Linked DNA regions of Homo sapiens. The protein of the gene in region 2 interacts with the protein of the main gene of each other region in a pairwise test. Each region holds a gene or a part of one and is shown on either strand. Other genes may lie near its edges.

Region 1 (6,308 bases), on a different chromosome or scaffold from region 2:
AGGATTCGGTCATGTGTTTTTCATCTTTGTATCCCTAACACATAACAGTACTTGGCATTTGTTAGTAATCAATAAGTGTACCACATGACTGACTAGTCTTCTTTTTACTTAACATATCAAAAAGTCTAAACCAATGCTATGTAAAGTAACTAGCCTATGAACTGTTAATAGTTTATAATGCAATAGAATTCAAGTCAGAATGTTAAAAGAAAAAGAAATGCTTCCTTTTTAAGAAAGTCTTGCTGTGAAAAAGTATCTAGCAGAACTAATGCTTTGTGATGTAGCTGATTGACATTCTTGCCCCATTTTGGTTCAAATACTTGAAAGTTGGATGAAGACATTTTCATAAGGAAAAATAAAATGCTGAGGGGAAGGATAGTTAAAATTAACTTTATGGTCTTCATTCATCTTTATAAGCACAAATATTCAGGCTGTCAAACATTTAAACTAAAGACACCTATTTTCACTGGTAAAAAAATAAATACAGACACAGGGCACTTAAAATGTTTTTAAAAAGCCAAGACACATAAAAAAAAACTAATAAATTTTTAATTAGAATTTTTTCCTTTTTTTAACAGGACAAGTAACAGATTACATCAAACTTCAGAACTTCTCAAATACCTAGTTATTATACACATTCCCATCTGTCTTGCAGGGAGGGATCTTGGTCGGCTTAACAGTTTCAGGTAAAATAAGCTGCATAATAGTATATATTACAATAATAAATGTACAATGTTTACATGAAATATGTTTTAGAAGCAAGAAAAAGATGCATCTGCATCAAAGGCGACCTTTTAAAATGCCACAACTATTTTTTACATTCACTCTTGCAACAGGTTACAAGATGGGGGTCACTAAGCTCAGATAAATCACTATGATGCACATAAAATACAGGAAGACTGGTTACTTTATATATTATATATATTTATATTTTCACACGTTAGCATCTGAGACATAAACTGAGAATTTAAAATTTATTCTCTTCAGATAACAAATCATTTTTTATTCTTCATAAACAAGGTGCCCACAAAAGCACACAGGTAAGGCACAATAGGGCTTTCTGTTACAGAATAGTGTGCATCATGTTTACTTAACCAGAAAACGTGCATTATCTGTGCAAGTTCATGCTGCAAACCCAACGCATACAATAAAACAAAAAGGAAACTGAGCTTTAAATACAACCAAAATTTGTACAATTCCAGCTGTTTCACATATTCATTTGGACTGACAATTATATATCAACAGGTTATTTTTAAAAAGCCAATTGTAGATTACAAGTAAAATTTACTCAGCAACTATTTTTATCTGAAATCATAAACAGTAATAAAGTAAGTTTACTGAAACAAATTAAATACTGAGGCACAAAGCAACAGTCAATCGTGCATTTACTATATTGCAAACTTTCATGACCCAAAATTGCAAGTATAATTTGTCAAATACACATTTTGCTGCAACAATGTGCCCTGCTTTAAACTTGACATATAACAGAGGCACTAACATATCATTAAATTATAAATAGATTGGGAAAATGACTTAACCCCAATGGTACTATGTCATGGCCCTAGTATTTATAATAAATACAGCTTTTCACAAAATATTTTTCCAATATCTGCCAATTTCTTCTTTATTGCTCACATAAATTTGACTCTATTACAACTGGTATCAGAACTTTCACACAAAATCATACTCAGACATTTTTATATAAAACCTATAAAAGATATTTTAAACTTGTATCTAATACTTCCAGGTGTTTGGCTGTTTGATCTATGCAAAAGTACAGCCATATGTATATATCTCTGTGTGTGTATATATATACATCTATATATACACACACATACACACATACATATATACACACACATTAGATTATGAATAAAATGGAAAGCTTATTTTACTGCTTTAATGCAGACATCCTCATAAAACAAGACTACTTTCACCACCACCAGCATTTATACATATATACAAAGCCAGTTTAAGTACATATACATCCACTTACACATATTTGTAACCACTAAGCCCAAATTAATTTTCCCATATTCCAGCCGTAGCAAATGAATCGCTTATAAGCAACAGAAACCTAAGGTTAAATTGGGAAATCAACAGTTTTACCACATTAGCCTGTAGGAACTATGCAGGTGACTGTATACAAAAATTCACAACATTAGTTCACAAGAAATTATGGGACTACAAGAAGCCTTTTCATCATGCTTTTGTGTGGTTATCCAAACACTTCTTGGGGCAAAAATACAACCACCACATCTGAAAATGCTTAATAAAGTCAGTGTTCCTCATGCAAAACTTTAAATGTATTGGCTTAACTGAGCTCCAAAAACTGAATGAAATAATTATCCTACCTACTCAGCATTGCTGCCTCACTGCTAAATCCCTTTGGAACCTTAAGACTTCTGGAACGTTCAGAGATGTATTCATCAATAAAAATATTACATACAAAAAGCATTTAAAAAGGAAGACAAAAAGCCAAACAGGAATTTTCCTATTGTAAATAACAGTCTTAGAAATGGAAGAAAATCTTTTCAGGAACTTCCTTGAGAATTGGTTAGGCCAGTCCGAAGACGAAGATGAGACATGGAGTTCATATGTTTATTTGATGGCTTCAATGGAGTGTTGGAAGTGAGAGCCTGGGGAAAGCGATGGTGGTATCTATCTAGTCGTAAATATTTTACTGTAACCAATTTCCCTGTTGTAAGATAAAAATAATATTTTAGATCAGTAAAACTGTTTAATATTTGCAGAAAATTAACTGTGGTAAAAGACATATGAGCACAAAACATAAATAAAGTCATCTAAAATTATTACTCAAAAAAATGCTAACCTAAATTCTTTTATTTGAAATCTGGTATAGTTTAAAATTAAACTATAACTATCTTTTCAAAATGTTTGTAGTACTCAAATTTCTTACCATCAAACCAAGAGCCATGCAATGCTTTAAAAGCCTTTCCAGCATATTCTGGAGACAGACATTTAACATATACACAACCCTGTGATATTAAAAAAGAAAGAAAATAGTCTTAGTTTAATAGCAACAAATCCAAAACATGAAATTCAATACCAAAAGTTACTTTACCTCACGTGAATTTTTGTCTACTGCAATGTGAACAATGCCATCATTATCACTGCATTTTTCTAAAATTGCTTCTTGAATTGCCAAATGCCACTGATCCCCTATTTCCCTAAAAGTTAATGAAAACAAAAATCAACAACCATATTCCTACTCGGTAAAAATTCTTCACTGTCTCTTACAACATATATATATTACTAGAATTGGTATAGTTTTAAAACCACATACGATTTTAATTGGTATTAAGTAAATGCTTGTTGACTAACAGGAGGTAGATTTAAAAATTACAATTCAGAAGTCTCAGCCCTCCTCCCACTTTCCAGTAAAAGAGTGCAGAGCGCTGGCCAGGCGCGGTGGCTCATGCCTGTAATCCCAGCACTTTGAGAGGCCGAGGCAGGCGGATCATGAGGTCAGGAGATCGAGACCATCCTGACTAACACGGTGAAACCCCGTCTCTACTAAAAATACAAAAAAAAAAAAAAATTAGCCAGGCGTGGTGGCAGGTGTCTGTAGTCCCAGCTACTCGGGAGGCTGAGGCAGGAGAATGGCGTGAACCTGGGAGGCAGAGCTTGCAGTGAGCCGAGATCACGCCACTGCACTCAACCCTGGGCAACAGAGTGAGACTCCGTCTCAAAAAAAAAAAAAAAAGAGTGCAGAGAGCTGAGGCAATGAAAGACTAGCCCACCGCTGCAGAATAAATGGATTGGGTCATTCCTATGTTTAAAAATCCTGTGTACTTACAGTAATTTCTGTTTTCTTTCTATTGTTAATAAGTACTTTAAATGAGTTGTGAACTTATTAAAGTTGTAAAAGTTAAATGTTAGTTATTTGAGACAGGGTCTCGCTTTGTCACCCAGGCTGGAGTGCAGTGGCGTGATCTCGGCTCACTGCAATATGTGCCTCCCAGGCTCAAACCATTCTCCCACCTCAGCCTCCCAGATAGCTGGGACTACAGGCACACACCACCAATTCTGGCTAATTTCTTTTGTATTTTTTGTAGAGACGGGGTTTTGCCACATTGCCCAGGCTGGTCTCGAACTCCTGAGTTCAAGTGATCCACCCACCTCGGCTTCCCAAAGCACTGGGATTATAGGTGTGAGCCACTGTGCCCAGCCGAATGTTATTTTCTTTAATTGTAATGATAGGTTCAAATTCCTAAAGAAAATTCTTAGTAAATACTACATTTGAGCTTCTCTTTTCCAAAATAATTGATACAGGACTAACATTTTGTACAGTCACCTTACTATAATGACAGTTTTAAGGTGTTTCTGCTGTAGTAAGGGACATTTGTCTTGCTTGTGAGACAAAGATGGCAGGAGAGAGAGGAAAGTGACTTCACTTCAAATCACAAATTTTCATCTTAGGTAATAAAATAGTGGACTTGCCAATTCCTAAGGCATGAGGTAAGATTCCCAACAGAGGTATCATCACACTACTAATTGTTTCTATCTCTGCAAAATAGAGGCGGTGTTTGTCTCTGTGTGTGTGGGGGGGGTGTGTGTGTGTGTGTGTGCGCGTGCCCACGTGCAAACACGTGTGCATACTGCTTCCTCACATTTCCAATTTTGCTGTCACTTATTTGGAATTTCATCAATGAGTGATTAGATGAGACTTTGGGGGTATTGTATACATATTGTAATTGCCACTGTTGGGACTTTTAAAACAAACAGAATTTGATCTGTACTATCACTGGATAGATAAGCAGTGCCCTCAGGAAGCTAATTCTAAGAACTATTACAGCTTATATATGAAATACTGTGAATTCTAAGGCAGTCACTTTTGACTGTGCTATTCTCTGGAAGCATATGTTGTTGGAATTATAAAGTCTGAAAAGTTCTTCAAATATTATATTGACAAGTGGAGACAGGACTTTGTAGAGAAGCAGGTATATACATCTTTGTAGGAAACTTTTTACAATTTGAGATTTGAAATTTGTAAGCAGCAGTGATTGTATCTATATTTTCTACTGAGGCAAAAATATTGACAGTCATGTATAATGACTTACACATTTAATAAAGGGTACTCTTTGTCATTGTGAGTCATTAATTTGCCTCAAGCATTTATCTATCTGCTATGACGATTCATAAGGAATACAAAGATTTATAAAAGTTTTACAAATCTTTATACATTAGTGTCCTTTGGCCAAATCTTTGCTTGGAATTTAATGAAAGAGAAAAACATAACATTTCTGTGGTAGAGATTCAGAAGAAAAACATTTTCAATTACAGACACACCATTATAAGAATATCATGCATTTTCCAGCCAAATATTCAGAATAAGAGTTACATGTACCCCTGATCATAATACTTACATAACGGGATCAAACATATTCCGAATCTTTAGACACGGTGTCAAACTATTTGGTGGTGAATTTCTTCTATCTAAATGAAATGCTACAAAAAACAAGTTAGTTTTACTATTTGACATTGTTCTAGTTTGTTGAAAGGTATTCAATCATTCAGTTCATTCAAAAAATATTCACTGCATGCTTTTACTAGGAGCCAGACCCCTGGTTAGATGTTAAGGTGAGTAAGACAGTCATTGCTATCAAAGAGTTTACAGTTTAATGGGAGAGACAGATGATAAAGAGTGTCATGTAAGAAAGTACAACTGTGATTAAGTCCTTAAAAAAAAAAGTACAAAAAGCTTTTTAAAAGTAACTTAACCTCATATGAGAAAATAAAACTTCCCTGAAAAAGTGAAATTTATGTGGGAACTGAAGAATAAAAATTAGCAGGGTGAAGAGAGGTGTGTAAAGGAAGATTTCAAGCAGAGGTGATTGCTTGTACACAGCTCCTGGGGCACGAAGGAGCAAATGTGGCTGGAGTAGAAAGAATAGAGATAAACCTACAGAAGATGTCAGATTATTTAAGATGATGTAGGCTACAAAAAAGTATTTGGGCATTATGGTAAGAGTAATAGCCACTCAACTGTTTTAAGGAGTAGAATAGGATGAGATCTGTCTTTTAAAACTACATATTTTAAAAATACATTGTTATGTGGAGACTCAGGTAAAAGCAGAAGTGAATGCAAGATGACCAGTTAGAAGGTTATTATTATATTATAGTTGTCTAAGAAGGAGAGGATAATGATGTGGGTAAGACAGGCCAACAGTGCAAGTGACAAGCGGATAGAATCAGGACATATTATGGAGTAGATATGACATGACCTGTTGAAAGGTTGGACAAAGAGGGATAAAGGAGAGATTAAGAATTATCCCTAAGTTTAT
Region 2 (7,840 bases):
ACAAAATTTACCGGAATATTTATTTTAAAAGGTTAGTTTATTACCAAGGGATAATTGTTTATTTTTTTAATGTCCTTACTTAGGACATGGACATTCACCAGGATAACATGAAACATTGTGAAAATGCTCACAGTATTGTTAAGTACTTATGCATTTACTGTTTGCATTTTTTTTTTTTGCTTTAGAATAACTTTTCAACCCACTAGCAACAGTAACCAAGGAAATATAAATCCAACAGCCTAGAATTACAACTATTTGAGAAGATTCATGGTTTCAACGTACTGCTATATTTACTGTTTCATTCTGGACAGTTTCCCGTTTCTTTAACTCCTCTCTAAGTGTCCAAAACAATATACAGAAAGTCTGCACTAAGCTTCGTTAAAGCTTTAAAATTTAGCATAGTATGTCTGGCAAATCAGAAAAACCACATATTTGTCATAACCTTTACCTTCCCTAAAATCAGAGTACATCCTGTGGATAAGGATTATTTCCCACATATTAAAGCAGAACATGATGAAACTGCTGTCCTATTTATTACAGAGGGAATGTCAGATATAAAGTAGTTACCTTAATCCTACGGTGCTCACTTACGAAACACCATCCCTCCAGTTTGGCAATGCATAGTGCACTCTCATTAATCAGAATTAAACTATTTGGAAAACATATTGAGTATTTTCATATTGACATTGAATATTTTCATCTTTATGAAACAATTTCTGGACAGACTTTTTTCCCTCCAACTGACCACATGATTAGTAAAGATAGTGTACCACTTGTTTATTACTTATGGATATCTTTAGTAATGTTTCATTTAAAAAACAAAACAAAACTCTTCTTTCTCATCCATGTCTTGGGCAATCACAGATGCAAGAGTTGACATCTGTGAATATTTTCTGATTACTTACTAACTAGGAATATATAAGTTAAAAAAATTTTTTAAAGGAGAAAAGCCAAATAGTTCATGTTGACTTTGAAAGACTGATGACAATGATGTGGCAATTCTAAAGTACTTAGAGGTTTAACCCAAAATTTGTTTACGTCTTTGATTTTTAGTAAACACTGCACTGATAAACATGAGTTTGTTCAGATCAAGAGTATGTTGGCATTCTCTTAAGCATAGTTTGAAACCAGAGAGCTCAAGCATAAAACAGCTCTGACAAAGATAACCAGTCAAGCATAAAAATGGGAGTTGGTTGTGTCAGAATACATTAAGAGGCCGAAGGCTGTCTGGCAGACAGCTGTCTTGCCATCACTGAAGGTGACTATTACCACTAAAAGTTGTTTTTCGGATACAGTACTTGAAATTGCTGTCATCTTGTATTTAAAATGCTCCTTATTTATAAAGCGTCACATCCTTTTCTTATCTGAAGCCTCCTTCTTGGATAACCACAAACCTAAAAGCAGTCTAAAATTGTGCTGATGCTTTCCTACAAGCACAGGGAAACTCTTATATTGAATCTTTGTCTATTTGGAGTTGAGAATGTCTTTGGCTTTTATTTTAAATGCCTTCTTAAATATAGATCACTATTTTTAAAATGTAAACATCCAAAGGCATTCCCTCACACTTGGAGGAATGCTAAGGCAGGAGACATGCTTGTAGTAGTCACATTTCACTTTCCCAGACGGGTGCCACAAACGTTCCGCTCAGTTACTGCTTAGGAGGCAGCATTATTAAATGCCTCACGACTTAACGGTCAGCCTCCATGCTTCTTGCTAACCTACATTTCCAAAAGATCATCCGAGAAATCTGGCAAGCCACCGAAATGGTACTAGTAAACTGGATCCATCCAAAGCACTCCACAGTGCCCTGTGGGTGTGTTTCTCACTGTAAACTACTGGGTAAAGAATTTACATACAATTTTATCTCCAAACTCGATTTGTATCCTTTGTAGGTTAGTTCTCAGGAGTACCCACTCCAGCCCAGAAATAAGTCAACGTAGTATTTCCAAACTATCACTTCAAATGTCCACGGTCAAGGGCAGGAGGAGGAAGGAATAGTAACGGGAAAACTTGTCAGCGATTAGCCATCCATAAAAATGTTCTCCCAGCGCTCCTCCTTCCGATCACAAAGCTGGCGTCAGGCAGTCTCCTGTATCTGCTTCCCACCTCGCCCCCTCCCCTCTGCGGAGAGCTGGCACCGAGGGGCGGGCCAAGGAAAAGACAAACACCCCGGCTCCGACACAGTCCAAGCGCGAGCCCGGAGACACTTCAACAACATTCCTAACTTTTTTTCTCAGTTCGCATGCCTCAAAGGTAAACAAAGCAAAAAGCCTACGAAACAGAAGGCAAGTGAGGCCAATTCGGCGCTGGCGAGTTTAAAAGTGGCCCCCAAAGAGTCACAATGACGACCCCCGCCGCCCCCTCTGTCCGCTGTCCCCTATCTCCAGCTACAGCAAGCGACCCCTCAGGCGCCTATCCTGGTCCCTGCCCACGCCCCGGGCCCCAGCCCCGACCCGACCGCCGCCCCCGCCGCGGGTCGAACATCCCCTGACAGGTCCCGGGGCCCGCGGCGCGGGCGGATGCAGGCGCGAGGAAGGCGAGCTGCGCCGCGGCCAACTCCCCAGAGCAGTCCCCTCCGGCCCCGCGCCCACCCCACCCCACCCCACTCCACCCCAGACAGGCTCCACCAAAAAACCCGGGAACAACGACCGCCAAAAGCCAAGCCTCACGCCGAGGAGCCTCCCAGGCTGCCCCGAGGACGAACAACTTCGCCCTCCACTCAATGCGCTCACACGCACGCACACAAGCAGCGCGCGGCCGAGGAGGGCACGTCTTACCTGTCCCCGCCGTGCCACTCATCCCTCCCCCACCCAGGTCCGGCGCCCCCAACCCCGCCCCCGCCGTGGTCCCCCGGCCGCCCGCTCCGAGCGCCGCGCACTCACTGCCTGGCTGCGCGCGCCCAGCGCCTGCAGGGCCCGGCGGCGGCGGCGGGGACCGAGACAGCGGCTGCAGCAGCGGCGGCGGCGGCGGCGGCGGCGGCGGCCCCAGCCGGCGTCAGTCAGACTGGAGCCGCGAAGCCTCATCGCCCGTATTAGTGCGCCGACCTGGAAAGCGGCCAGGGAGCCCTGCTTGCGGCCCGCCCCCGCCCGCCGCCGCGCGCTCTGGCCGCTCCGGGAGCCGCAGAGGAGGGGGCTGCGCGGGCCCGGCGGGGGGCGGGAGCGAGACCGGCCCCACGGCCACGTGCGCGGAAACTCGCGGCGCGGGGGTGGCGGGGTAGTACTCCTCGCAGCGGCCTGCGGCTCGGTTCCCGCCTCTTCCCCACCCCCAGCCCCGCGCTGCCCTCTCGGTCCCCCTGCGCGACCCCAGGCTCGGCCCCTGCCCGGCCTGCCGGGGTGGCCCGGGGGTGGGGTGGGAGCCCTTTGTCTGCGTGGGTCGCCTCGCGTCTCTCTCTCCCACCCCACCTCTGAGATTTCTTGCCAGCACCTGGAGCCCGAAACCAGAAGAGTTGTCAGCCCAACAAGAATATAGGATCACCGGCCCATCAGTCTGGAGACCCTTCTGAGCTGCTGTTCCTCACATGTTTCTGGGCCCTGATAGTGACTCTCACTTGCCCTGTTTGTTCCTGATTTGCTTTTCGGAGTAAGGGGATCCTGTCCCCATGGACAGTGACAGAGCAACTGGGCCGCAATGGCATAGGCAGAAGAAAATCTAATCACTCTGGGGGTGAGTGGTGGTTAAAACGACTCATGTAATTATGTGGATTGTAATTTCCTTACACATATTTATTTGCTTAACAACCCAGCATGTGAGATATATTATCTAATCTAATAAAAGATACAAACTTATGGGCACACAGCAATGTTACTGTACAACTTTCTCGTCTCACGGCCTGGCTGTCCCCCAGGTAGCCTGCCTCTTAAAGTCACTGTGGACTCCTGGAACCCACTCAGAAACGCCACTTAGGAAGAACCACCTCTGATTCCCCATCAGCCCGTAGTTCCTCACAGAAAAGGCATTTGCTGCAGGGGTGAACGTGGAATAAAGCCACAGGGCAGTTTTCAGCTTGCTCCTGTGTGCAGGAAAGTCATACCTCCAGTTGGCCCCGATGGCGGCTCCGAAATGTAAAGCAAGGCCTTAAATTTAACTGCTTTTTCTAGTTCTCAAAGCACTGCACTTTCTTCATGGCAGATGCTATTTTTGCATTATTATACCGTTGTAGTTGAACGGTGATTTGTTTAAAACAACATTTGCAGCAGAACCTTAAATACCATGCCTTAACCTCAAAGTCTTCTTTCTACACTGGCCCAGATACCTCTGCACCCGGCTATGTGTTGGGTTTGAGATTGTCCTGGGTGAGAAACACCAGGAAACAGCGGGACCGGTAAGGGCTACAGATTATATATTAAGGATTAGGCTGGATGTGGACTTTATTGCCAGTAAACTAATTAGGTCCTCAGAATTGATACCTTGTGGCTCAAGTTTTTAAAAATTAAATTAAGAAAAGAAATGGCCCAATCACTATCTCAGTTTCCTTCTCGTATATGAGCATAATGCAGAGGACAAGATGCAGAGAAAGAAATTATAACCTCTGCAGCGCTGGCTCATGCTTCTGGCATGGAGTCTTTCTCAGTTCGCAGAATTCTCTTGACTCTTGGCAGGCCTTTGATTTAGAGTATGTCTAGTCTGCTCTTTTCTGTACGTTCTCATTTACATACCAGGATATTTCTGCACGATGATGACTTTTTCCTGCCTAAACATTAGTCTGTCACTGATATAATTCCTATCATGTATTCCTCAAGGCTAGTATAGAAAGTTAATCCATTACGCTCAAGAACAATAAGATCTGGTGAGTTCCAAGAAGGAGAAAATGCTTGGCCTAAGACAGAAGGCGCAGTGTTGACACTCCATTTTACAGAAGCTGACTGTCCTGGTTAATGGAAAGCTAGACTTCGCTTTATCTTTCCCAGTGATTTCTTGATTGGCTGTGGTTTTACTGCTTAATAGAACTTCCACCAAAACATTCTGTTATGGGAATCATATGAAAGGAGAGACTCAGAGGTTGTGATTTGGTAGAACCGCCAGTGAAATTTTGGTTCAGGACCTCAAAACCACGGCAAAACTGAAATCTGTTTTCTGAAAGATGATAAGGTCTTGGCCTAACACGAACTCCCTCAGGCTATAAAACAGTGGTAGGAAGGGCAGCTTCCTTACCCCAAGAGAGAGCCAATTCTTTGCATTTGCCATATACCCAGCATAAAACCAGACTGTGGTCTTTGAAGCTGTTCCTGAAGTGACAGTGGAGAGAACCGGGCAGCCCAGAAACCCCAGGCAAGGAGATTGATCCTGCAAGAGAAGGGGGTTCATCATGGCGGATGACCTAAAGCGATTCATGTATCAAATGTTACAAAGTGTTGAAGGGCTCCATGCTATTGTTGTGTCAGAGTTGGAGTACCTGTTATTAAAGTGGCCATTGATAATGCTCCAGAGCATGCTTTGAGACCTGGTTTCTTACCTACTTTTGCCCTTGCAACAGACCACGGGAGCAAACTTGGACTTTCAAAAAATAAAAGTATCATCTGTTACTGTTACACCTACCTGGTGATTCAGTTAAATCATTTACCTTTGGTGGTGAGTTTCATAGCCAGCAGCAATGCCAATACAGAACTAATTGTCAGCCTAGAAAAGAAACTTACTCCATTATTTGAAGAATTGAGACAAGTTGTGGAAGTTTCTTAATCAGACAGTGGTTTCAATGTGTACCTTATCTTTATTATAACAACACAATATCGATCCAGCAATCTTTAGACCATAATACTTTTATCCATGTCCTCAAGAAAGGGCCTCTTTTTCCAACTTATACTGAAGAGCAAGCATATAGATAAAATTTATGGACGGATTGATTGTTATATTTTCTGGTGTAGGGTCTTTTCTTATTTAGTGAGATCTGGGGATACCACAAAAATAGTTCAGTCTGTCACAGCACCCATGGAGTTAGTCCAGCCACCAAATATGGATGAGATTCTATTCCGTGGATCAGAATCAAACTGGTACATTGATCCATTTGAGCCATTAAGTGCTCTCTATTGTACAATCTGCCCAGGCCTGCAGAATGAAGCAGATTTTTTATTGCGAATAATAATGAGATATTTTTCTTCAGATTATGTTTTATTTCTTCTCATTGAGTGTGAGGAACATAAAATGGCTTAGTAAAAGCAATAAAATCAGTACAGTCACTAGCTTTCCTTTGTACTTATTACTTTATGATATAGATGAATATTACTGATTGGTTTGATTCTTCTCAGAGGGTGCTGCTCTTTAATGAAAATAAAAATTATAGCTAATGGTTTTTCCTCAAACTCTGCTTTCTATAACTAATCAGTGTTTTAATGTTTGTGTGTTCTTTATAAAATTTAAATGTAATTGGTTACTGAATTCTGTTTCCAATATTAGTATTATGTAAACATGATAGTATAACCATTTTTTCATGTGAGTATACATAAAATAGTATTAAAAAATAAAAAAATAACAGATTGTAACAAAGTCTGTAGTCATCCATGGATGCAAAGATTCTGCTTTGTACGTCTCTTGTACCTTAAGTTTGAGCTAGCATGATAATGGTTCCACTCAGAGTAATAACTAGGAATCATAGCCTCCACACTCCTCCCACCTCAAGTCTCCTTTCTAAATTTTATCTGTAACTCTGTCCTGATGCTGCAGTTTTTCTGCCTCCCATTCGGACTTTCCTTGAAAGTCATCTTTCATTCCATAATCACTATTGAATGCTTTCCTAAGTACCAGGCACCCGAATTAACTATATGAACACAGAGCACTGGCCCTTAGTAAAGGCAGCCTAAGAGAGAGATACATCTACCAACGATTATCACACAACTTTGTGTGTCACCGTAGGGGAGTGGGCACAGGGAGGTGTCAGGGAGGTCTTCACAGGGTCGAAATTTTAGCTCCAACTTGAGAGCATGAACACTTACTGTCCTGCACCCCCCTGGGCCTCCACCCTGCCTGAGTGGGTGCAGCCCTGCAGGTGTCAGCCTCACAGCAGAGTGCAGGCTGCACTTCAGCCCACTTGCCACCCTGGCCTGACACTCTAATGCAGGCCCAACTTGTTCAATCATGAAGGCAGAATGCCTACTATGTGCAGAATTCCCTGAGGCTTTGAGTAGAAAAGCCTCAGTTTTCCTAAGAGAATTGTCAAACTAGTTGGATAGATAAGAAAAACAATGTTAACACAGCAGTTCATCACCAAATACATTCTAAAGGATTGAGACAAGAGAGCAATGGACCATCTTGACTCAGCAGTGAGGATCAGATGCTGCCTCCATTGTGAGAGTCCCCCAACCGGGAACTGGACTGGCGCTTCCCACACCTCCTCTCATTTCCCTCTCATGACCTCTCACGGGAGAATTATCATCTGCATTTTACGTTGAGGAACCTGAGGGACACACAGACTATCCCCTCCAGGCTGCCTTTCTCCAACGCCCAGGTTTTTACACCTCATTGTTGTCCTGGAACTTGAAGTGGAGTTGAAAAGTGATGAACATGGGCAGTGACATCCCAGGAAGAATAATCTACACAGGCTAGAAGGTGGAAGGGGCTGAGGGAGAAAAGTTTGTAGAGAGAAGAGGTAAGGAGACCAATTAGGAAGCCATTGCAACATTCTAGGCATGAGGTGATGGGCGTCTGTGGGATTCTAGAAAAGTGAGGAGGAGATGTATTTATGGACACTTTGAAGAGATAATCAATAAACTTTGGCAAAAAAAAAAAACTGGAGGAATCAAGGACCGAAGACGGGAGGAAATGCTACCTTTAGAAGAAATTGGTTAATAAGTACTATGAAGCAGGAAACTATGCTTTGGGGAAAAAAGATAAAAGAAAATCACCCTCC

Evidence for each region. The genes of interacting proteins can lie anywhere in the genome.
Region 1: the proteins of SMAD9 (region 2) and LEMD3 interact in binary tests that used the Homo sapiens proteins (3 or more experiments, as listed by UniProt).

Annotation. Positions count from the first base shown.
Region 1 is NC_000012.12:65,242,552-65,248,859, reverse strand, and holds the end of LEMD3 (inner nuclear membrane protein Man1), read right to left. Parts: intron 5,473-6,308; coding exon 5,391-5,472; intron 3,192-5,390; coding exon 3,086-3,191; intron 3,000-3,085; coding exon 2,921-2,999; intron 2,699-2,920; coding exon 2,535-2,698; 3' UTR 505-2,534; downstream 1-504.
Region 2 is NC_000013.11:36,917,234-36,925,073, forward strand, and holds the start of SMAD9 (mothers against decapentaplegic homolog 9), read right to left. Parts: upstream 3,006-7,840; 5' UTR 2,883-3,005; intron 2,804-2,882; exon of another isoform or gene 1-2,803. UniProt on the Homo sapiens protein: Transcriptional modulator activated by BMP (bone morphogenetic proteins) type 1 receptor kinase. SMAD9 is a receptor-regulated SMAD (R-SMAD).